Linked DNA regions of Homo sapiens: regions 2 and 3 are each linked to region 1. Evidence: fine-mapped expression QTL. A gene starts in region 1. Each other region holds a variant in brackets. All regions are shown on one strand. Distances are between the middles of the regions.

The links.
Region 2: its variant is fine-mapped to the expression of TCF12 in stomach (GTEx, PIP above 0.99).
Region 3: its variant is fine-mapped to the expression of TCF12 in whole blood (INTERVAL, PIP 0.92).

Annotation. Positions count from the first base shown.
Region 1 is chr15:56,914,987-56,923,268 of GRCh38, reverse strand. It overlaps TCF12 (transcription factor 12), which reads right to left and starts at 4,625. Exons shown (of 21, transcript NM_207037.2): 1 at 4,363-4,625; 2 at 3,281-3,377; 3 at 2,171-2,243. The coding sequence starts at 3,355. It overlaps TCF12-DT (TCF12 divergent transcript), which reads left to right and starts at 4,770. Exons shown (of 4, transcript NR_015419.2): 1 at 4,770-5,729; 2 at 6,057-6,204. RefSeq lists silencers at 3,586-4,025, 4,076-4,365, 4,456-4,505, 4,676-4,805, 5,326-5,465.
Region 2 is chr15:57,488,228-57,496,509 of GRCh38, reverse strand. All of the region lies in intron 8 of CGNL1 (cingulin like 1), which reads right to left. It also overlaps the pseudogene RIDAP3. Among named protein-coding and RNA genes, the nearest start is that of GCOM1, 100 kb to the left of the region's middle. The variant T/C (reference allele first, on the strand shown) is at 3,559.
Region 3 is chr15:57,066,075-57,074,074 of GRCh38, reverse strand. The region is part of intron 4 of TCF12 (transcription factor 12); the gene reads right to left. Among named protein-coding and RNA genes, the nearest start is that of TCF12, 150 kb to the right of the region's middle. The variant G/C (reference allele first, on the strand shown) is at 4,597.

The sequences.
Region 1 (8,282 bases):
TCAGCTAAAAAAGCTTCTGAAAGTATTATATATCGTTTCTCAAAAACAGCCCACTGTGAAATTGAGTCTTCCTCAAAAAGGACAAATAAGAAAGGAAATTACAATACCTGACTATAAACTCTAGTTTTCATAAGTCAAATGGCATGTAGTTTTTATAAATGTTACTCCAAAGACAAAACAGAAAACAAACAAAAAACCCTAATCTTTACTACAGCAGCTCTTCAAAAGGAAAGTCAGATCTTTAGCTCCTTAATAGCTGCAAATACATAGGCATTAGAGTGTATTACATAATATCCTTTGAAATCAGGGCAGAAGGTTATTCAAATGTCAATAAGGTATATAAATATAAAATATATAAGTAAAATAATGTTACTATACCAATTTCTTTTAGACATTCCCTTTAAGAACTGGCCACAGAAAAATTATATCTACCAGTACATCTTGATTTGAAAAAAAATCACATGGCATTTTCTCTTCCCCAAATTCAAATCCATTCACTAATTAAAAGTCACAGCTTTTTTATTACAATTTTTTGTAGCATTTAAAACAAAACACACAGATAAATATTGCTAAGTCCACTGACTACAGGTGTGTAAGTTCAAACCTTTCAATGGATAACAAATCTAACTTTTAAAACTAAAAGTTCCTACTCCAAATAATCAAATATGGTGACCATTCGCAATGTAGAAAAATAATTTTTTCTTTGTGCAATGCAACGTACTGAAGTCCAAAAATTGCTCCAATGCCATGCTTATAATCTATATCCCAGTTCACATACTTTTTAATTTCACAGACTACATAAATCCTTCTTAAGTTTAAAAAGTGAAATAAATGTAATTGCCTTTATTCTAAAAATAGAATGCACTTCTAACAGCAAGTTCCTGGAGTTCATGTTATTGTATCAGTGACTGTCCAGTTATATATATTTACCATAACTTAAGCTGGAACAGTAGGCAACAGTAATATCAAGACTCATTTTTAAAAAATACTAAGCATCATCTACTATGTATTAGTCAAAGTAAATCTGAAGGTTCCTGAGAATGAATTATTAGTTGCAAAAATGAGATGTATCAACACCAGTAAAGAAATACAGCCATCTTCTACAACTTTAAGATTATTAAATTTTCTCCCCCCTCCCCAAAAAGTAACAATTTTCAAATGATTACCAGTAAAAGGAAGGAGGTGAGAGAAGAGTTGGGACTTGCCTATCGTTTCATGATGTCCTTTTGATCAAGAATAATACTAGTCTTTACCCTACTTAAAATCCAAAAAATGCCTTCATTTCACTTACTTAAGATGATTAAGGACATGCTATACTTTCCCCATAAGCTCTAATTTCATAATTAAAAATGAATTTTAATAAATTAGTATACAATTTTTAAAAACAAACTTTTTAGAATGTAAAGTGGTATAAAGTGTTTAGGTGGTTATGAAATTAACCTTATTTTCTGATGTTTTATTCTCACAGTATTTTAAGAAACCAACTATCATTTTACCAGGGGAAATAAAAAGCACCCATCAAAGAGGCATTACTGAGTTTCAGCCCAGAGATTTGACAGTTGGTTTTCTTAAGATGATGCTGTCATGGCTTTAGTTATTTTTTTCATCTCTTAAGCACAAAGAAATAAATTTAAATTAAATAAAAAGTTACAGCTTTTGCACACTGGAATGGACCTTCCTTCTAAAATATTTTTAAATTATGAGTTTTTAAAAGTTAAAAAAAGAAAAAATGCATACTTAAGAAAAATGGGATGTTTTAAAATGGAGCACAGTAGTCATAAATGTATTGAAAGTAAATTTAAAGACAAGATCACTAGTGTGTAGATCTACTTTAACTTACTCTAAACATTATCATAATGTAATCTGGATATAGGAAAGGATTCAGTCATCTAATACTTATCATTTAAAAATAAATCTAAGTTTCTATTCATTTTGAAAATTTACCCCACTAACATTTTAAATAATTGTAAACGAAACTACTGATTTCCTACAGATTTCTGAGGGAACTGTCATCTTTTAAAATTAATAAATCTTACTAATTATCACTTGACTCAATTCCATCTTTTATATACATATATTCAATAATATTTAAATGTTATGCTTTCTATTTTTCTACTAAAATGTATCACACCACCAAAATATGAGTCTTTAGTTTAAGACATCATCTTACCTGATCCACTGAATTGACTGCTTCCCAGTGTAGTTGGTCTAGTTTTCCCACTATTAACAGGTGGGGAAAACATCTGCAAAATAACCCAAATATATCTGTTAGTCCTGAAATTCTTCTAGATTCCTTGCAAACAAAAGTCCACCAAAAGTCATCCATCAGTTATTAAATTTCAGAGGGAAGTTAAAATAAAATTGGAGATACATTCAGATCCAGAGAGGCAAATACACTGAATGATACTATTTCCTAATTAATTGGAAATAATGGTTACATTTTGTTCTGAAGACCCGATCATTTACATGGAAGAGTCCAAGATTATTAAGTTTAAACAGTATAGTATTACACATGATCTTTACTGCAGAACTAAGTGAATTTCATTACATTTACATTATATCTCAATATACACAGTCAGAATTATGGCCCATTAAATTACTACATACAGTAAGGATTATAACTGAATTGTATAAAGCAGGTATAGGTGCTGCCTCCTAACAGCAGTTAATAAAGGAATTAAACCCATTAAAAATAAAAGCAGTGGGCCCTTAGGTTTCAGTTGATGTTTTTAAGTCATTTCCCATGTTAAGAACATAATACACACACACACACACACACACGTGTGTGTGTGTATAAAATAAAAGTACTCTGTTTCAGAAGGCTCGAAATTCTAGCTCTGGACTACTTTTCTTGTCGCTGACATCTTTCAGGTACCATAAACTACATCTGATACTGGAGAGGAAAATGGTGAGGAGTACTGAAGAAAAAAACAACACTTTTTCATATAAAGTACAAGATCCCCAATAATCATCGCGGTGGGAGGGTGACTCAACCAAAGGTCATAATTACATTGTTCTCCTTTTAACTGGTTAAATCAAATGACCCCTCTGGCATTAAAGTTTTAAATGTGCAAGTCTAGACATTACATCAAAGTTCAGGTGTCCAACTTGGGGGAGCTGGACTCCAGCCCTGAGAACTACTGCTTAAGCAGAAAGCAGATGGAGTTCACGCTGCCTAGTCTCCACGTTGCTTCCCCTCACCCTTTATTTAAAAGAAACAAACAAACAAACAAACAAAAACCTCAGCAGAACCCCAAGATGCCATGGAAAGCTCTCATACCGCACTGAAGTCCAGTAGGTCGCTCAGCTCCTTGTCGGTCCCTATAGCGGCCATGCGTTGTTGCTGGGGATTCATCTTCGGCCACTTCTAGCAGGTCCTAGGGCAGAGGAAACGGGCTCAGCGAGAGACCACCGAGGCCCAAAGTGTGTGAGGGAACAGAGAGAGGTACTGGGGAAGATTACGCAAGAGCGCTGGGGGCGCCGGGATGACTTCCAGGACCCCGACTCGCTCCCACCGCGGCGCGAGCAAGGGGCGGGAGGGCTCAGTGCCCGCGCCGGGTCCCGGAATCCACGCGTTCCTCGCCGCGGCCCGAGATCGACGCGGCGGCTCCCGCAACTCGCCGCCTCTCCCCCAAGTTTCCGAGCCAGTCTCTGCCACCTCCTCGGCGCCCCCTGCTCCGCGCCGCCGCCGGGTGCTCCGCGCGCCGGGCCCGGCCGCGGCTGGGGTCTCGAGGAGCGGGGTGAGGGGCAATTCGGCGTCCAGCGAGCGGAGCGGCGGCGAGCGGAGATGCGAAGTGACTCACTCGCTCGGCAACAATAGAACTGACAAGTTGCAGGGAACGCGCCGCTCGCAGGCCCGCGTCTGCGGCCGCCGCCGCCCGGACGTCCCCGGCGGGCCCAGGAGGTCGGAAAGCACCCCCAGCTCATCCAAGGGGCGTTTTTAAACAGAAAACAGAAACCCCGACAACTAGTCTCGCTCTCGGCCGGCGTCCTCCTCCCCAGGCTCGGCCTCCTCCCACTTTTGCTGCCCTGCCCCGGACCTGCCGAACAATGAGCCTGGCTCCGCGGCCGAAGCCGCCCGATCTCCCGCGCGCCCCGGAGCCTGGGCGCCGGCCCGAGTCGGGCACCGAACGGGGCGCACAGGCCGAGCGCGCCGCCAGCGGGCCTGAGCGCCCGCGACTCGAGCCTCCGCCCCCACTCCGCTCCCCAACTTGGAGGGGACCCCGGGTTTCGCGCTGTACAAAGGGGCGCGGAGTTGAGGCGGGGGACGGGGGCGCCCCCACTCCGGCAGGGACGCGGCGGCGCCCCGCAGCCCCCAGCCCCGCCGCGCCGCCCCACTCCCGCTCGCTAGCCCGCAATTACCTGCCGCCCCGTCTCCGCATCCAACCACCCCGATTAAAGTTCACTTTGGCCGGGAGAACGGGCTTGGGCTTCCCCTTGCACCGCCCAGCGGCTCGGTTCACTTTGCCCCGCACGAGCTCTCGGGTCTGGGAGGGGGAGGCGGCTTTCGGGCCTGGCCGCCCCTTCCTCCCGGGGCGGGCTGTCGGTCCCCCCGAATAGAACTTGTGGGTCTCTTCAGGCGGACATTTTTTTCGCTGAGGCGGCCTCACCACCGCGCTCGGCTCGCCTCCGGATCCCTCCGCGCCGGGAAGAGCCGCGGGTTAACCCTTCCCTCCCCGACCCGCTCCGCCGCCTAGGAAGTGGGGCCGGCAGAGGGGGCGGGGAGGAGCTGTCGGGGACTGGGAGGAGCCGCACCGCGGCGGGTGGACAAAGCCCGCGGTCGGGTGAGGCGGGACGGAGTTGGGGCCGGTGGGGAGGGGCATGAGGCGCTCGCAGGCACCTCGAGAAGCAGGCCCCGACCGCTCGCCGACGAAGCCTCGTCCGGGCCTCCTGGGAGCGGGGTGGCAGGTACCGTGGCGCCTCCTCGCGTTGGTCTTGCTGGTTCTCGGCCCCCGAAGCGGAGCGACGGAGACACAGCTGTGGAAGCATCTGGATCCGCTGCCCAGGTCCCCGAGCTTCCCGGAACCCGAGGCCGCAGGACACTGAAGGCTGCCATTCCCGAGTAGGTCACGCTGGACGCCACCCTAAGCTGGGCCCAGAGGCTCCCGTCCAGGAGGGCTGCAGTCGGCGCAGACACCGCGCGTGTGGAGACGGGAGACCCATCCTCCTCGGCCGTTCCGAGAGTAGGCGCGGCCGGTCAGATTCGATGCAGAGCCGAATGCGGGAGAAAGGGCAAAACGTACCTCAAACCAGACAAAGCCTTGTGAGCTTCAGGTTCTCAAATACCCCACTCACCCAGACCCCACATCTCCAGTCAGCCCCTCGCACCCAAATCCCATTCGGAGCAACCGAACTGCACGTGGGACTAGTTCTTGGGAATGGATCAAGCCAGTCTCTTCATCTAACGGAGACAGCCCTGGGTGGCTCTGTCACACAGCCACTGTCTTGTGCACAAGTTCTGAACTTGGCCTCAGAGAAGCCCCAGAGTAGAAAGAAGACAAAATAAGCCCCAGTTCTTCGATTCTGGGCTGAAGTGAGATTTTCTTGAATGGCAGCCATTGTTTTGCCTCTTAGGTAAGTGAGTGCAGTAAAGACCGGTAAGGCCCACGCAGAAGAAACACTGAGGAAAGAAGACACTTCCAAAGTAACAAATGGGAGGAAGCAGCCAACGCCCGAGGACAACATGGCAAGAAGGAGCCTTTGGATTCCGGACTGGGATGGAAAGAGAGGTAGATTCAGCTACCATATGCCATTACTGTAGTTAGTACAGTTGTCTCTATATCCGTGGGATTGGTTCCCAGACTCTGGATTTTCTAAGATGTTCAAGTCTCTTACATAAAAATGGTGTGTTTCCCCATATACTTTAAATCATATCTAGATTACTTATAAAACCTAATACAATGCAAATGCTATGTGAATAGTTGTTAAGGTGTATTTAGGAAATAATCATCCAAAGAAATCTCTATATTTTCAGTACATTTTCAGGCTATATTTTAGGCTCTATATTTTCATGTATTTTCAGGCCTGGTAAGCCTAACTACATTTTTTGTTTTCAGTTGATTGAATCCCGGAATTTGGAAACCCCAGATACGGAGGGCGGACGGTACAACCGGAGCTGTCAGGTGGATTTCCAAGGCTTTGCATTGGCTGTACCTGAAACTTATGGTGGCCTAGACTCCCCAGTATCCACTCTTCCTTATCTTGGTAAACAAGCCCAGTTCTGAGTCACATCCCTGCTCTGCCTACTTACAGGGGCATGTGGTCCCAATCTAAGCAACGTAGCATAATTCCAACCTAAATCAGCAGAATCCCATTCCCTGCCACAGTTATTGGCTGGCAATGAGCGTAACATATTTGGGCCAATGAGAGGAGCAATTTCCTGGTCTTTGTTGGGAAAAGTTTTTCTTTCATTTTCTGAGAGCGCTTCAGAGGTAACCCATTCTTTCTGCATGTCCTCAAAAAAACGGGTCCCCTGGATGGTGGGTAGCCATCTTCCAAATACAAGTCTAGCCGGGTTAAAATAAAGAAGACATCAAGAAAACAAACATGCATAGAGATCTGATCTTTGGTGACTTTTTTTTTTTTTTTTTTTGAGATGTAGTCTGGCTCTGTCACCAGGCTGGAGTGTGGTGGCAGGATCTCGGCTCACTGCAACCTCCGCCTCCCAGGTTCAAGCGATTCTCCTGCCTCAGCCTCCCAAATAGCAGGGATTACAGGTGCGCGCCACCATGCCCAACTAATTTTTTATTTTTTTAGTAGAGTCGTGGTTTCACCATGTTGGCCAGGCTGGTCTGGAATTCCTGACCTCAAGTGATCTGCCCTCCTCAGGCTCCCAAAGGGCTGGGATTACAGGCGTGAGCCACCGTGCCTGGCTTTGGTGACATTTTTGAGGCTCTGAATCAAGCAACTTCTGAATTCAGGTCTATCTTCACTGATTAGACCAATAGGATTCGAATTTTCTGTTGTCTGTAATCTAGTGTGGTCTACACAGTACCACCCCAATGACCATTTTTTTAGTAGCAAAGACATAAACGTCAGGTAGGAAGTCTGATTAGATCATTTTTAAGGCCCCATTCCCATGTGTTTTAGTTCATTTTCTCCTACTGCTAACAGAATACCATAGACTGAGTGATTTATAAAGAAGTTTATTTGGCTCATGGTTCTGGAGCCCGGTAAGTCCAAGAGCATGGCACTGGCATCTTTAGAGGGCCTTCTTGCCGTGTTATCCCGTGGCAAGTGAGCACACACAATAGAGAGTAATCCATTCATGAGGGCTCTACCCTCTTAGAAGTTTCTCTTAAAGGTCTCACTTCTCAACACTTTTGCATTGGGGGTTAAGTTGTCAACACATGAACTTTGGGAGACACATTGAAACCATAGCACTGTGATAAGATTCTATGACTCCACAGTAAAACTGGAAAGAAATCTTGCAGAAGGAGAAGGTATGTGATCCCACATGTTGGATTCATGCTGTTTTCAAGATTCTCTTCTCATCCTGCTCACACAACTAGTGCAGAGGAAGAATATCTGTCTGCCCAAACCTTCAGTCATAGGGGCTCCCTCATTACTTAGGGACTGATTGGTGAAGTTTTTCATATCTATTATGGCCCGTATAGTTTTACTTTATAATTTATTTTCCTTATTAGATTGTGAACCCCTTGAGGGTTCGGACTGACATGCATCTGTCAGTACCATGCACCTAACGTAGTGCCAAGAGCATAGTAGACCCAAAAAGGAGGAGCTGGAATTAAAGCTATCATTCATTTGACATTATAACATGAAGTTATTTTTCATAATATAGCCTTTGCTTGTGTCATTTTTAATAAGAGAAAATGATTCCCACCAGTGAATCTCCTATAATAGCTCTGACTTATATAGAAGACAAAAAGAATATAAAAAGTGGAGTTTTGTATCACTTATAACTCATTTCTGGGCCTTTGCTGACACATCTAGATAGGGCCAGAAGCCTTTATTGAAAAGCTCAGAGAGAAACAACTAAGTAATACAAATTCAGTGTTAATTAATAGTACTATTTGTGTAGTATAAGTTAATCCCTATCGATAAGTTAATATTGAAAAGTATTTAATGTGCATTTCTCACATGCCGGGCATGGTGTTAAATGTTTCAGGACAGAAAGTCTAAAACCCATACTGCCCTCAAGAAAGTTATAATCTAATAGATTTTTTTTTTTGAGACAGAGTCTCACTCTATTGCTCAGATTAAAGTGCTGTGGCACAATCTCAGCTCACTGCACGTTTGCCTCCTGGGATTAGGTGATCCTC
Region 2 (8,282 bases), 570 kb before region 1:
AGGGATGGTTTCAGGACTAAACCATTCCATCTGAGATCATCAGGCATTAGTTACTACAGATTCTCATAACGAGAATGCAACCTAGATCCCTCGCATGCACAGTTAACAATAGGGTTTGTGTTCCTGGTCCCTAACAGGTCACAGACCTATACCAGTCCATGGCCTGAGGGCTGGGGACCCCTAGAGTAGAAGGCAGGGCTCAACCCAAATATCAGGTCAAGCACAACTCTTGATCTTCTCAATAGGTAATTCTGTTAAAAATTACCATGATTTTCTGAGAAACAGTCACGTTTTGGTTTTAAGGCCCTACAAGTAAGGAACTAAGGCTGTTTGGAGGGTTTTGTTTTGTTTTTAATGTATTTGTCGCCTTGGTAAGCCTGTCTAAGTGAGCTTTAGAATAACCCTGAGAACATTTTCCCAGGAAACACACACTTCCCTCCTCCTGTCTTTCACTCATTTATCTTATCTTGGAGTTCATGAGGCTCCATTCCACAGTCATTCCTGGTTATCAGTTTTGCTTTTACAAACAGCATTTATCTGGATTGCCAAGACATTCTTGGCCTTCTGGAAATATGCTTTCATTTTTTTTTGTCAATTAGTTGCTTTATGTGCTTCCAAAGTTATGTTTTCACATGAAAATAGATGTCTTCCCAATTCCCTTGGCCTTCACTTGGTATTAACAAAATTTACAATGGCACTGGGACCTAATGCTTTATTAAAGTCTATCTACATCAGGGAAAATAGGGCTGGTCACACTCCAAGTCATGTGAAACACCTCCCAAGACAATGTGGATTCATTTAACACCCTTACTTGGTGCTTATAAGTGCCTCCCCAAAATCATTCATCAGTGCTCTCATATGTAGAGCTTGAAAACAGTAGAGTGGCTATACCTTTGTATTTTCCTAGACGGAGAGTCCCTAGGGCTGATTATTTACTGTCATCCTTTCTTTCTCTCCTTAATGGTGTTCCTAGGTCAAAGGGGCAAACAAAGGCTGTTTTTGAATCATTGCAGGTATAAAACCAGAAATTCACATTTTACGAGACATTTGATTTTAAAGAAACAAGCTGGTAATAACCATGAGGAATACTTGACACAGAAGGGAGGCCTTCCCACAAGACAGCTCAATGCCACCTCGAGGTCTCAGAGCTGGCAGAGGTTCCAGAGTCACTGCATCTTACAATCCACCAAGATGCTGGTAATGAGACCAACACCAACTGGAAGGCATGGTGGTAAATGAGCTGACTGAGAAAGCAAAAAGGATACTGATGATACCATGCAAATGAGTTGCTGACAGCTGGTTTCTAAGTTACACGTGAAAACTATTTCAGAGATTTCACAGGAAATGCTTCCTGTAAAAGCTACAGGAAGCATCATGGTTTAAGGACCCACAGGGTATAGCCAAGTTATATGAACTGATCCTCTACCCTATAAAGCCCCCAGAAGGATGTAAAGAAAGATTTTTAAAAGACCTTCATTCAAGCCATTTCCAGTAGAGGTGATGAAAACAATCTTCACGGTTCCTGTCATACAAGGAATGAGTGATAAATCCCTAAGACAGGAGCAATGAGAAAGCTACTGCATGCAGAGAAGAGGAGCTACCTTCTGGCTTTACAGTTAGAATTATACATGAAGCACATGGAGACATTTAGAGGGATGGCAAACACGCCAGTGTCTGAGCTCATGCCTAGACACTCGAGTTTCCAGGGAACACCCTTGGCCAAAATCTGCTGGATGAGATGCCAGCTGAACACTGTGCACCATTGCAAGTGGCTAGAGTTCAGGAATGAACAGAAAGCCATAATCCAGTTGTTCTGGGATGGAAAATGTAATGCACACCAGTTTGCAATTAGTCTGAAATGAAGAATCGGGACCATTTAGCCCCAAACAGAAAGAACAGAAAGTTCATGGGATTGGGCCGATTCCCAAAACAAAATCCATCCCTCCTCCTGCTTTTACATTTTCTACTTCTATTTTTAATGGCTTAATCACATATGAGTAGTTTATTATAAGTTGCTCATAAATGAAGGGTGTTAAATGCTGAATCCAGGTGCAGAGGAGAAAAAAGGAACAAAGAAAAAGGGTGGTGGCAGAGGTGGACTCTTTCACAGCCTGGATTTCAACAGAACCACAGGAGGGTCCTAGAGACATGTAGAAGAGAACGAGAACTCCACCTCTGTACTTCCATCATAAACAAAGCTTCTTGGCCTCCATTTCAGAATACAGATCCTTCTCAACCCCTCCCCACTCACACACTATCCAGTTAGAAATATTCATTTGATGGCTATACCTTGAGAATAGTAAGTCACTAGTTGAACCTATAAATGTAAAACTTTTTAAATGGCAAGAACACAGGCATATAAAAATGACGGTCTTTGGAGCCTACATCCCTTGCTTTGCAGATTTATTTTTTAAGTGATTTTCAGGTTCATACCCCAATCAGTGTTTTCAAATCTCTCTCTTAGCACTTATTGTCCATCTCATTCTTCTAGGTACTGGGGGTTACACATGTGGTACATGAATCCATCCCTCATCTACACATATTTAGGAGAGATGCCTGGTTCTCTTGGGGATCTGGACTATGTCTTGCTTATCTTCTTAGCTCCAGTACCTGGACCAATGTCATATATACAATTGGAGCTCCATAACTACTTTTTATTTGTTGAAAACCTCTGATTGTGGAAAGTAACTATGCACCTATTATAACCATAGCAGATGGAAAGAACAGCATCGAATCTGAGAATATGCAATCTCACTAAATCCACTAAATGGTACTTCAAAGGTTTCTAAAACTTGATAGCATGTTTCCTTATACACATGAGTGTATCTGTGCTGCTGCCAGGGAGTGGAGCTTACGATCATCCAGAAGTCCTACTAACTCATGCGTCTTCATTCTATAGTTAATCCCCAAAACGGAAAGAAAAAGAAACAGCAGATATCATGTATCTCTTTTCAGTTTAATCAAGTTGATTTTTAATCCCTTGTTTCTGACCATTGAGATCATTGTGAATCTTGGTTCTGCCATATTGTACTTGGGCTGTCTCTGCCTGCTTTGGGTCACGTACAGTCTTGATAAGCATGCTTTCTGTGTCTTTATGTCATGAAAAACAAGTTAACATGACAGGACCAAGAGTCCTGTCATCCATCACTAGAAAGCTCCTTCCAAAATCTGTCTGTGGCCCAAATCTCCTTGCCTAGTAACCCTGTCAAAAGAAGAGAGCACAAGTGGAGTAATTCTGAATGACTGCAGACTTGTAAGGATCATCTTCTTCAGCTCTTACTTAAATTTTAATATCTTCAAAAGAAAGGCAAGAGGATCAATATGATTCAACTTTACCAGCATTAACTTCACTGCAAATTTGAAATCATAAACTCACTATCTAAAGTACTAATATTGGTCTAATGTATTTATTATGTTCTTTATCTTATTAACTCCTGGTATCAAACCAGACCTCAGAATCATACTCATACACTCACATTTAGCAGCTAGACTCGTCCCCTTATCCCACGTGCAGAAGGACAGATGTTATCTCATACTTCACAGTAAGGAAGTAAAATC[T/C]GGAAATAAAATGCCCATACCTGATGACGTATTCAAGACTCTGGGACAATTATTGTTTCTTCTTCAGTGATGTGTGGGCCTGAGGCATGTAGAGATGACAGTGTGCATGCCTGGATCTCAGCATCTACCTCCTCTCTCTGCTCATGGGTCCCCAGGTCCCCAGGCTAGCAAGGAAACTTGGGTATAACTTCCAGCATTATATGTCAAGAGAAGCTTTAATTCCCCTGAGGAAATGTTTTGGGTTTTTTTTTTCCTTATGGACAACAAAAGTCATGAAGTTGATCGTGTTTCCTTTTTCACTTTGCCAGAAGTCTCAGGACTACATCTCTAATTCACCTTCAAGATTATTGGACTACACAGCTGGGTTCTATTTGTCCTCACTATCCCCAGAATTGATTCTATTTACATTTATATTTCCTATGATCTTTTAGAAATATCTTTTTTATTTTACTCTATGTGCTTTTGTAAGTATTCTCAGATTCAACCTATGAAAAATGTCAATGTATAAACAAAGTTGCAAATCTATTGCTCACAAAGTTTCCTTGCAAATGAGAACCTAGCACTCCTTAATCTGTACACTGTTATTAGGTAGGATTGGAGTGTAATCCTGAAATGTGTGTGATGCCTCTGAGGAAATGAATCAAGTTAGGCCCACCTCATCTTTTGAATGTCAATTTCTAGGATCAATGAACTGATCAGATCCTCTAACCTCCCTTAAGATGTGCCTCCTATTGCCAGGTCTCCAGGTTCTGCCTTCACCAGAGTGAGAAACCTAAGGCTTTAGTTGATAAATCAAGTGTATGCCTCCAGATAAGTCATCATACCTGAGGATTTCAAAGACTAAAAGCCTTAAATGAAGTAATAAAGTCTCTGACTGGAAATATCTGGAAGTGAGCTTTCCTTAGTTTTTACCTAACGTCCTTTTCCAGCTCTTGATCCCATTCAGGATACCACATTACATTCAGTCATCATTGCTCCTCAGGCTCCTCTTGGCTGTGACAGCTCCTCAGACTTTCCCTGGTTTTGATGACCGTAACAGTTTCAGGAGTTACATATACTGGGCCAGGTATGTTTGCAGGAAGGAGGAGGAGGAGGGGAGTTGGTCCCAGTACTATTTGCATCTTTCTTGGGATGAACATATTTTTAAAGCACTTTTCTGACACATTCTCATTGCAAAACTTATGCTGTTCTCTAAAGTAGAGAGAGTAGGCATTTCTTTCTCTTCCTAAATTATTTGGAACTCTTCTATAACGGAGATTCATCTGTTCTTCCTACATCATGGGCATCATTATCCCGTTACTATTCTGCCTCTTAGCTACAATGTGAGCATCTTCGAGTACAGGGACTCAAAGCAAAAAGTGGTACATGTAGTGGATTCAGGAAACATATGTTCTAGGGCTCATTCTTTCATTGTATCAGCTAACAAACATGTGAGTGCGTCTTGTGTGCCAGAAGCTGTGCATAAAGATGAATGAAGAGCTCACAGCCTTGCAGGGCAGACAAGAGAGGAAGTTAACTGCAGTGCCAGTGGCAGAACAGAGATGCAACTGGTGCCACGGAGAAAGCAGTGGCACTGTGGGAAGGAGGCTGCTTGAGGATGACTTCACAGAAGAGGCACCAAACTGGGTGTTAGAATATTCCCCCAGGTAGGTTTTTCTAAACGAAAAATTATCTATAGAAAAGCTTTAGATTATAGAAAAACTGCTAAAATAATACAAAATTCCCTTTCATCCCACACTCGGCTTCCCCTGTTACTGCATCTTACACGAACATGGTACATGTGTCATAATGAATGAACTAATCCTGATCTATTATTATTAACCAAAGTCCATACTTTATTCAGCTTTCCTTAGTTTTTACCTAACATCCTTTTCTGACTCTTGATCCCACTCAGGATACTCCATCACATTCGGTCATCATAGCTCCTCAGGCTCCTCTTGGCTGTGACGGCTCCTCAGACTCCCTGGTTTTGATGACTGTAACAGTTTGAGGAGTACTGCGCAAGGTATATTTGCAGGATGTTCCTCAATTGGAATTTGTCTGATGTTTGGGGTAGAAAGACCATGAAGGTAAAGTGTCATTTTCAGCATATCATATCAAGGGTAGATACTATCAATGTGATTGATGCTGAAATTGATCACGTGGCTGACGTAATGTTTATCAGGTTTCTCTACTGACTCCCCAGTCCACCAGAAAAAGTGACTCTTTTCTCCCCCACTTCATCCTGTACACTCTGGAAGGAATTCACTATGTGCAGCCCAACTTCAAGAATGGGGTGTGAGCCCCTACCTACTTGAAGGCAATATATCTAAATAAATTATTTGGAACTCTTCCAGAAGGTAGAGTCCTCTATTATTCCCCATTTATGTATTCATTTACTTGTTACATCAGTGTGAACACCATGAGCATTTATTTTATTTTGGGGTCATAATCCAATACTACCTTATTTTGTGACTTTGGCCACCGGCAGCTTCTGTATTTCGTTCCTGTGTCCCTGTGCCATACCTCATCAATGTGAGTGCACACGCACGCGTGCGTGCGTGTGTGTGTGTGTTTGGAGCACTTCCTTACTTTCTGGCACTGCTAGGTAGGTTTTTATAATGTGGTTTCTAAACATCAAAGCCTGCCCACGTTAACATCATCTTCAAATGCATCAACGTCATAGAACTTTAATGCCAGAGAGAGCCAGAGGTCATAAATCCAGTATCCCCATTTAATATAAGATAAAGCAAGGTTGGAGCAGTTGCCTGAGGTTACACAGCTTTTTAATAGCAGAGTAACACAGCCACTATGAGAATTCCTGATTTTTATTGCTTATTTTCATTTTTTTTCACTATTTCAAGTAACTACTGTTGTCCATGTGTAAAAGTCCAGTCTACAGTAGAGAAATTGTGTCTGTCACGAAATCTCTCCAGGTGACCAAGTTACCATCAGTAAGGCTGCACACAAAGCAGGGTTGAAAATATGCTTCCCCAACCTCCAGACATCCAGAGAAAACGCTACTGTTTTTATTTTTCTAGTAACAGCTTAATTTTCCTCACAATCTCTCTAATTTCTCTCACAACCTCTCATCTACCTACAATGGCAGTAATCCTAACTTGAACTTAATAGTTAGTAGTATCTCAGTCACTTCTGGTCTAAACAGTCTCTTTTGAGCAGATGCTTTAATATCCAAGCTTCAGCACCAAAACTAATGTCTGGGAAACCACTTGAATGGTAGGGAGCCTGGAAAATAAAACTTAAGAGGAACAGAATAGTGCTAAGACAATTCAATGAGGCAAGAATCGTCTCTTCAACCAACAGTGATGGGACAACTAATATCTACATGCAAAAGAATAAAATAGACTCCTACCTCATACTATGTTCAAAATTTAATTCAAAATGAGTCATAGACTTAAATGTAAGAGCTAAAACTATTAAATTCTTAGAAAAAGAGTAAAGCTTAAATCTGCATGTCTATTTTCTATCCATTAGAAAAATATTATCTATATAAAGTTTTGGTCCATTTTCTATTTCTTTACCCCTACCATTCAAATTTAAATATTTTAATTTTAAACTAGTAAAAGCAGAATTACCAGAATCACATACCTGACATGATAACTAAATATATGACATCACTCAATTTATTGGAATTAGGTATGCTCTTGATTATTTCTCAGGAACAACAACTCATCTTTCCTACATGTTATTTCCCTGTTATTTGAGTAACTATGTAATGAGTATCTCTTTCCTACATTCAGTGATATGGGTGTGCATAAGTGTAATTTGTAACATCAGTAACTGGATTCACCATCTAACCTTCAATTCATGTTTAATTCTATTATATAGTATTTCCATAACTTTGGATACTTTAGTCAAACTTACACTTTTCATCAATTATAAAAATCAAGATGTTAATTAAGATGTTATATCAACTGTGACAATGAAGACGTTAAAAATTCCGGACTAGACAGCACTGGGCCCACTTATAGACAGGCTGTTGTGAGAGGTCCTTGAACAGCTACTGCTTCAATTTCAACCTGGCCTCCTTTGGGTAAAGCAGCAACATGGTAAGCAGCTCTAGTAGAAAAACCACTCTTAAAATACTGTTTGTAGATTACATTGACAGCCCGGAAGTCATTTGTGTCAGCTAGCCAAACAGTTGTTTTTGCCACATTAGTGAAGTCACAGCCTGCAGCTTTCAAAATATCACCCATGTTCTTAAGGGCCTGTTTAGCTTCTTCTGTTACCCACTCTTGGCACAAGCTGTGCACTCGAAAGGTTCATGCCTAGCTCTCCTGAAATGTAAAGGATCCCGTCAACTAATGCAGCTTGACTGAAGGGACCAGTGTACCCTTGGGCTTTCTCAGTGTTGATCACCTTTATGATCAAGGATGACATGGCTAAGTCTTCTCTCTTGCACCCCCTTCAGTAGAAGCAGTCCCTACACCAGTTCTGCTCACTTCTCACTCGACTGCAGAAGAAGAGAAGGTCTTCATGACCTTGGATGAGGAAATGGTTTCTTAGATACAACACAAGTACCAACAGAAAAAAGAGTAAACTGGACATCATGAAAATTAAAAATCTTTGCGCTTCAAAGGATAGCATTTAAAAAGTGAAAAGACAATCTGAAGAAGGGGAGAAAATTTTGCAAATTAAATATGTACTAAGAGACTGATATCCAGAATATATAAAGAACCATTACAACTCAGTAATAAAAAGACAACCCAATTTTAAAATAGGCA
Region 3 (8,000 bases), 150 kb before region 1:
AGTACCGTTATCCTGAAACTTCTAAGGCCGGGCGTGGTGGCTCATGCCTGTAATCCCAGCACTTTGGGAGGACGAGACAGGCGGATCATGAGGTCAGGAGATCGAGACCATCCTGGCTAACACGGTGAAACCCTGTCTCTACTAAAAATACAAAAAAAATTAGCCAGGAGTGGTGGTGGGCGCCTGTAGTCCCAGCTACTCGGGAGGCTGAGGCAGGAGAATGGCATGAACCCAGGAGGCAGAGCTTGCAGTGAGCCAAGATTGCGCCACCGTACTCCAGCCTGGGCGACACAGCGAGACTCCGTCTCAAAAAACAAACAAACAAACAAAAAAACTTCTAGTGACTCTGTCCTTCAAGTCCTGCACAAGTAGAAATAACTGTTCTGGGGGTCTCTTTTATAATTTGGCAAATGCAACACAGTAAAAAGGGAAAGTAATTTAGAGACAGCCTGGATAAAGTCCTAAGCATTTAATATCTGATAAGTTATCTACCTTTTCTGAGCTTCAATTCTGTCACCTCTAAAATGGAGAAGATTTTAAAAATGGCTTCTTGGTGAGCTCGTGTGAAGATCAAAGCAGGTAACATGAAAGTGTGTAAACTAAATTGTGACAAGTGCTGGTTATGATTTCATTGTTATTAATTTAAAAACCCAAGTGGGTACAAAAAAGTGTCACCCTACTTTTTATTCCCACAAATAAGCAATCTCTAAACTTAGGGAAAAAATATTAAACAGGCTGTCAAGAAAGACCTCAACAATTACAAAAAGGGACATAAAGATTCAAAGATTAATATGCTTTGATTTTTACTTGTTAACTTTAAAATCTGAACAGTTAGAAGATTAAAAAAGAAAACTATAAAGATTAGATCAGTCCTGATCAAGATGTTATTTCATGGGCCTAGAAAGTTAATCACAGTAAGGTGAGAAATTGACATGAAGGTTATTTCCAAAAAGATCCACAGCAAAGCCTCTCAGTAAGTGTTGTCCCCAGGAAGAAAGGCTAGTCTGAAAAAAACAGAAGCTTTAATTGTCTTAAAATGGAAACATGGGCAATCTGATCAGTATGTGCTTTCTTTCACTTTAAATATCTGCTAGCAAGAGATTTAAAGGTGCTTACATCATCACAACCCAATTTTTTCTTATCCAAAAACATTTAGGTTATAATTTATAGGCAGGTGCTGTTTCAAACAGAACTAAGAGTAAAAACATTTTACTCTTCTGGCTTTATTTAAACCTAACTTTAAAACACACCCTTTTTCTTACTCATAGTTTTCTTCACATTCAGAACATTCAGAAGGAGCAGTTACATAACAAAACAGAGATTAATGGGAACACAGATGCAATATATAGAAAACACTTACTTTAATTCTCTGACCCTTCTGTCTTGCTTTGCTATTTAACTGCTTCATCTCGTGTATTGTACCTGAGATCAAGAGGCATAAAATACTATTTCAAAATTCGTGTGTCCTTTCTAATTACTGTATTTGAACTCCTAGTAGCTATAAAATGTATACCTTTTTCCCCTTCAAAAATAAAAACAATAGCAAACACACAATTTTGAGAAAATATCTACACTAGAGAAGAAAAAGTAACACTAATCTTTATTACCCATCAATGCTGACAAATGGGACAACTGAGTAAAAGCTATTTTATATTTCTTTATTCACACAACTCGATTTTCCCATGTATTAAGGAAAACTATTTATCAAAATCAAACAATCTGTTTTAATACAACCATAGCTAACTTGACAAAGCCTAAATAAAACACATGAAGTTTAATTCAGGAGTTACCATTTTGTGGGTGAAGTGAGTCTACATGATTTTATATCTTTCCCAGTCACTTAGTTGTACCAGTTTTGTGTTTTCCCCTTTGTGAAATTTCTTATATAACTTTGCAATCTGATTACTATCCTCCCAATCCAAGTCTTATTTCATTATCCGTGGGTCCATGTACCATCTTTTCAGATCATCCTATTTTTTGTCACTCTTTCACCTTGGATCCATTCTTCATACCACAGTAAGTTAATATTTATAAAACATTTTGTGTATAAAATCTATTTTTAATTGGCTCCCAAAGAATAGATAACATTTTTTTCTACAGAAATGTTAACCTGCCTTATCTCGTACTATTTTCCCACAAAGTAAGCTGATTTATTATCTACCGAATTTTGTAATGAGACCACTGTACTGTTTCCATCATTCCATATTTCCAGACTTTCTTCCAGCCCTATTCAAATGCTATCTGTCCTGTAACAGTCTACTCAAACACTTCCTCCTCTATTAAGTCTTTCTTGACCATCCAAAGTAATCTCCCTCCTCTGGAATCTCACAGTAGCCAAGAAAATTATTTTCGTAATTAACTATTTGTTGCCTAATTACAGCATCTCCACTGCTGTCTTAAAAGAGTTAAGAAGTTTTTTGGGCTGTGTTTGTTTTTTGTTTTTTGTTTTGAGATCGGGTTTCACTCTGCCATCCAGGCTAGAGTGTAGTAAGGCTCATTCTAACCTCCGCCTCCCGGGCTCTAGAGATTCTCCTGCCTGAGCCTCCCGAGTAACTGGGACTACAGCCAACACCACCACACCCGGCTAAATTTTTAAGAGATGGGGTTTTGCCATGTTGCAGAGGCTGGTGTTGAACTCCTGGACTCAAGCGATCCACTTGCCTCAGCTTCCCAAAGTGCTGGGATTACAGGTGTGAACCAGCAACTTTTTTTTTTTCTTCACTACAACCTCAACCCCTGGGTTCATGTAATCCTCCCACTTCAGCCTCCTGAGTAGCTCGGACCACAGGTGCGCACCACCAGACCTGGATTTTTTTTTTTTTCTATTTTTTGTAGAGAGGGGGTCTCATTTTGTTGCCCAGGCTGGTCTCAAACTCTTGGGCTCAAGCAATCCTCCCATTTTAGCCTCCCAACGTACTGGGTTTACAGGTGTGAGCCATCACGCCCAGCCTAAAAAGTAACTCTTTAGGCAAATATGACTTACATGTCTAAGCATATTTCCTGAACTATAAGATACACATTTATTCACCTTTAACATTTAAGAAACTGAATGCATTTACAAATCTCAACATCTTAAAATTGGGGGATCAGGGTAAGTCCAACCTCCCTAAAAGCAGGCCAACTATACTGTTCTTATGCCACTGGACTCTGTTGGAGGAAGGAAACTACAGGTTGCCTCTGCCCATAGATACACTCTTAAGGCATCTGCTGTCAAATGTAAATGAACTACCCACCAGTTCCTTCTACACCTCCAGCCAGTATGACCCTGCTGAGGTCAGAATGACCTGTGTTTTTTGTATAGATAGCACATTAGAAAAACCAAGGTTCTATTATCCTATTTCTAACTCACTACCTACAAACTATAGAGAGGTTCTTAGCCAAACTCTTCCACATTAACGAAAAAATACTGAACTCCTGTTAAGAATGGAGAGAGCGCTAAACAAAATTAAAGTTCCCTTTAGCCATATCTGGCAGGAATGGTCCAGGATTTGCAAGAAAAATGACATTAATCTCATCCAGATAATCTTATAGGCTGATTTTACTTTCCCATAGAATCTGAAAGCTTATGTTTACTTTCACTGAGTTTTTATTTATTTTTGTTTCCCTTATCCCAAGGCCCCAATCTATGGCTTTGTCTATGAACTTTAGAAGACTGGAGAAATACTTAAATCCTTGTACCCACATATTTTCATTTTCAACCTAGTTGGGTCTATGGTCCGTTTTTGTTTTTAACAACTGGTCTGTGAAAAAAACCACTGCTGATGCTTTTTAAATGAACTGAATCCTCATATCCCTTTATTGCTATAGGTATCAGAAATCATAGCATGTATTGAAACAAAAAGCCTCAGAACATACCTATTACTATCCCTTAATAAAAAAAAAATCCCGGATATCATCTTGTGCTGAATCATATACAGCAGCTAAATCAAGTATTTTAAAGCTAAATCATCACCACACAACTGGTTTTCCCCTTTCCACTGACAGGTATAAGCCCCAAACTTTAGTGAGGAAGTTATTATTAGTACCCACCCCCTTTTAATCAATGAAAAAAGAAAAAAAGATTAAAGTAAAAACACATAACTTGCTCAGAGTCACAGAGCAATGAGGCAGAAGTGCCAGAAATAGAACCCAAGACAGCTTGATTTTAATGCTCAAGCTCTTAAATTCTATGCTATTCTACCCAATACACTATACTTGCTAAACTGTTCTATCATATCATGTCCCATGTCCTCTTTTATCAGCTGCAGACCCTCTTCTATTTTCACCTTTCTCCTCTCTCTTTTCCCATTCCTTCAGTATATGGCAGAAAACGTAAAGTTCTTTGAGTTGGGAAGTACTAAAGTCAAGGGGTTAAAAAGCACTAGCATAAGATTCAGAATATCTGAGTTCTGTCATGCCAGAGGCTGTCATTAACTAGTCACATAGCCTAGCCAAATCTCTACATACAGCACAAATCTACACCTGGTCAAATCTCAAACATGTCGTTTCAGTTTCCTCATGTAGGAAATAAAGAGACAGAACATATATAACCAATGCATCTTTCAGTTTTGAAAATTCTATGATACTGTAAAACACAGAGGGAAGAAAGAGCAAAAA[G/C]ATAAATGACTGTTTCATTCTGCAAGCCATAATACAGACAGAAGAGAAAACCATGGTGGACATTTAGCAATTCATTTTTTTAAAAAGCACTCAAACTCTACTCAACTTAATATTGCTTCTTTTTTAAAAAAATAACTACCATAATAGATTACATATAAACTGAAAAATGTTCATGATTAAAATGCCAACTCTTGATCACTGATGATGCCTATAAATGTAATTCCTATCAGTGGTTTCCTATCAGTGAACTCAATTCTATCTTTTAAACTAAGGAATGACCAACTCTGTATCTTAGAAAAGAGTATCAATATACTCCTCTCTCCTACTCCCACCCCAGGATGCAAACCTCAATGGTACTTTAATACTCTACTCCAGAGCTTGGCGTAGGTTGGCTAACACAGTTAAAAAGGCAGAGAAACCAAGATGACCTGGCCTCTTGACATTTCCACAAACTCATATAACTCGACATTCTAGAAACAGAATTTGTACATCAAGAAATATAACCATGAAAATGTACTTCAAATTATTATAAATAACAATATAATAGCAGTTCTCACTTATTATATCAATAAATGAAATACTTCATACCTATTATCACATTTCATCTTCACCAAAACCCTACAAAATACATGTAAAATTATCATAATTTTAGAGACCAGAAAACTAAGACACATAGAAGTAACTTTCCCATGGTCACACAGTACAAGTTTCCAAATCACTTATTATTACCATTAATACCACCACCACCTACTTCAAGCTTCACCTTAAATCAACTTTGATTCTTTCCTTCCTCAACCTCCCAGCCTAGTTAATCTAGTAAATCTGATGATTGTTCCCGAATTTGATTATATTCAGCAAACATGTATAGAGCACTCATCATGTATAAGGTGTTATACTAGAGAGACTGATAACTTTTATATCCAAGTTTGGCAGGAAGAGACTGTTGCTTTCCCAAGAAAGAAATAAACAGTTGAAGAGGGGAAATTGATTTTATTTATGTCCTTCATACATTTAAAATAAATAAAAGTAGTTAAATTAAGCATGACTGAGTCGGCAAATAATTCTCATTTATTACACTTAGAATACAGCATATTTGCAAATGTATCCATGTGTTTAAATTTGTGTAATTGTTAAATATAGATCTAATGGGTGAATTTTGAGATACACAGGTTTAAAGCCAACACTTATATAGCACTCACCACATATCAGACATTGATCTATGCAATTTCCATATATTGCCTCATTTAATCCTCAACAACTTCATGAAACAGATATCATTATCCCCATTTCACAGATGACTAAACCGAAGTACACTAGATTTAAATAACTTGTCCAGAATCACACAGGTAGTAAGTGGCAGAGTTACGATTTATACCCAAGCAGTATGATTTCACAGTCTGCCCTCTTAAGCACAGCCTTCTGAAGAGAAAAAAAAAATCTGAAACTAGAGTAAGTCATTAACACCTTAGTGAACAAGAACAACCACAATATTCTCTGGCCTTTATGCCTGGTACACCAACATTTCTATGCAATAAAGAATAAAAAGCAAGGGAGAGAGGGAACAAACTCATTAACTAGATCTCTTGCCCATGTCTAAACTACCTGAGATTTTAATCACTCCTTTCAGTCTCAGGTGCTTTACCTTTATCACCACATTCACAAATTTCTAAAACTGGAAGTGCTATTCACAACATGATTCTATCTATATGTTCATGTGTGTGTCTATGCTCTCTGCACAGGTAGACAGCAGATGAAGAGTGCAGAAACCAGGACTCTAACAAAAGTAGAGAGGAAGGAACAAATGTTTGTTCCTTCCCTCTGGGTGTCTCAAACATGCTGAGACATGCTTAGGAAATGTGAAATCCACATTGCCTAAGAATGCTGACCATGCCTACCATTTCTTCTATAACCACTCTTTTTTTTTTTTTTTTTTTTTTTTTGAGACGGAGTCTCGCTCTGTCGCCCAGGCTGGAGTGCAGTGGCGGGATCTGGCTCACTGCGAGTTCCGCCTCCCGGGTTCACGCCATTCTCCTGCCTCAGCCTCCCAAGTAGCTGGGACTACAGGCGCCCACCACTACGCCCGGCTAATTTTTTGTATTTTTAGTAGAGACGGGGTTTCACCGTTTTAGCCGGGATGGTCTCGATCTCCTGACCTCGTGATCCGCCCGCCTCGGCCTCCCAAAGTGCTGGGATTACAGGCGTGAGCCACCGCGCCCGGCCTATAACCACTCTTAGGTACAATGTCTATTTTTATGTCAACCTAGCGAAACCTCTTCACTGAATGGATTGCTGTAGGTACTTCTGATAACCAGAAACTTAATCACCTCTAAACTGCGAGGCTACTTTTCTGGTGGATTTGGTAAAAGCAAGGGCAGACACACAGACTGGAACCATGCTAGAGTGACTTTTCCTAATTCTGAAAGAATGGGGATAAGCCTAACACAGAGATAAGAAGTTTGTGACCGCTTAATACATAACTCAGGTGGAGCTCATTTATGCATCAAGGCTACTATAGTAGAATGGTATCTTACAATTAAAGTCAGGACCCTGTAAGGCAAATAGTGTACATAGCAAAAATTTCCCTTGAAAAGCTATTAAATAAAGAATAAGTTCAATCAATATGACTTTGTGTAACTATTCCCATACAGTAACATATAACATACAATATTAATAGGGTTCATCTGCCAAATATGGTTTCATATTATTGTAAAGAAAGTATTGTTTCTCCCTTATAGTTTGGCATGGGAATGGGAGAGGGATAGAATGGCAGGCAGCTCAGATAGTTCAATTCATGTTAAGTTTAAAGCAGGTATATTGTATCTCCAACAAATTACTCATTTTGCAGTTTCTAATACCCTTTTTTTGGCCTACTAAGCATTTTCAAATGTTATAAAAAGTATAATAAAAAATTTCTATTTAGTGATGTTACTGAAAATCAAATTATTTTTAAATAATGGAATCTGCTGATAGAAATGTAATATTTATATAATATGATAAAGTCTAAATAAATTTCATTTACTTGATTTCTACTGAAGTATCTGCAACTACATTGTTTAAGTTGACAAATTTTTAACTAACAAGTCAAAACTAGTCTTTAGCCAACATTAATATTTATTTTTGAATTTAAGAACCTCAATGTACTTAAATAAGAATTTAAGAAATTCAATATACTAAAATAGGAGAATGAAGTACTTTAGTTGAGATTCTTATCAACACAATTATACCCATTTATGCTTATGATTATGAAAGAAATGGTCAAGATGGTGAATACTGTTAAAAGATGAAACCCCAAAAGCTGATAATTTCCCTATAAAGTAGTACTGAGGGAGGCTTCAAAGACAACCATAAAGTTCTCCTTGGCAAGAAGAGTTGCCAAGGAGAAACTGGATCCAGATTTTTGTTTG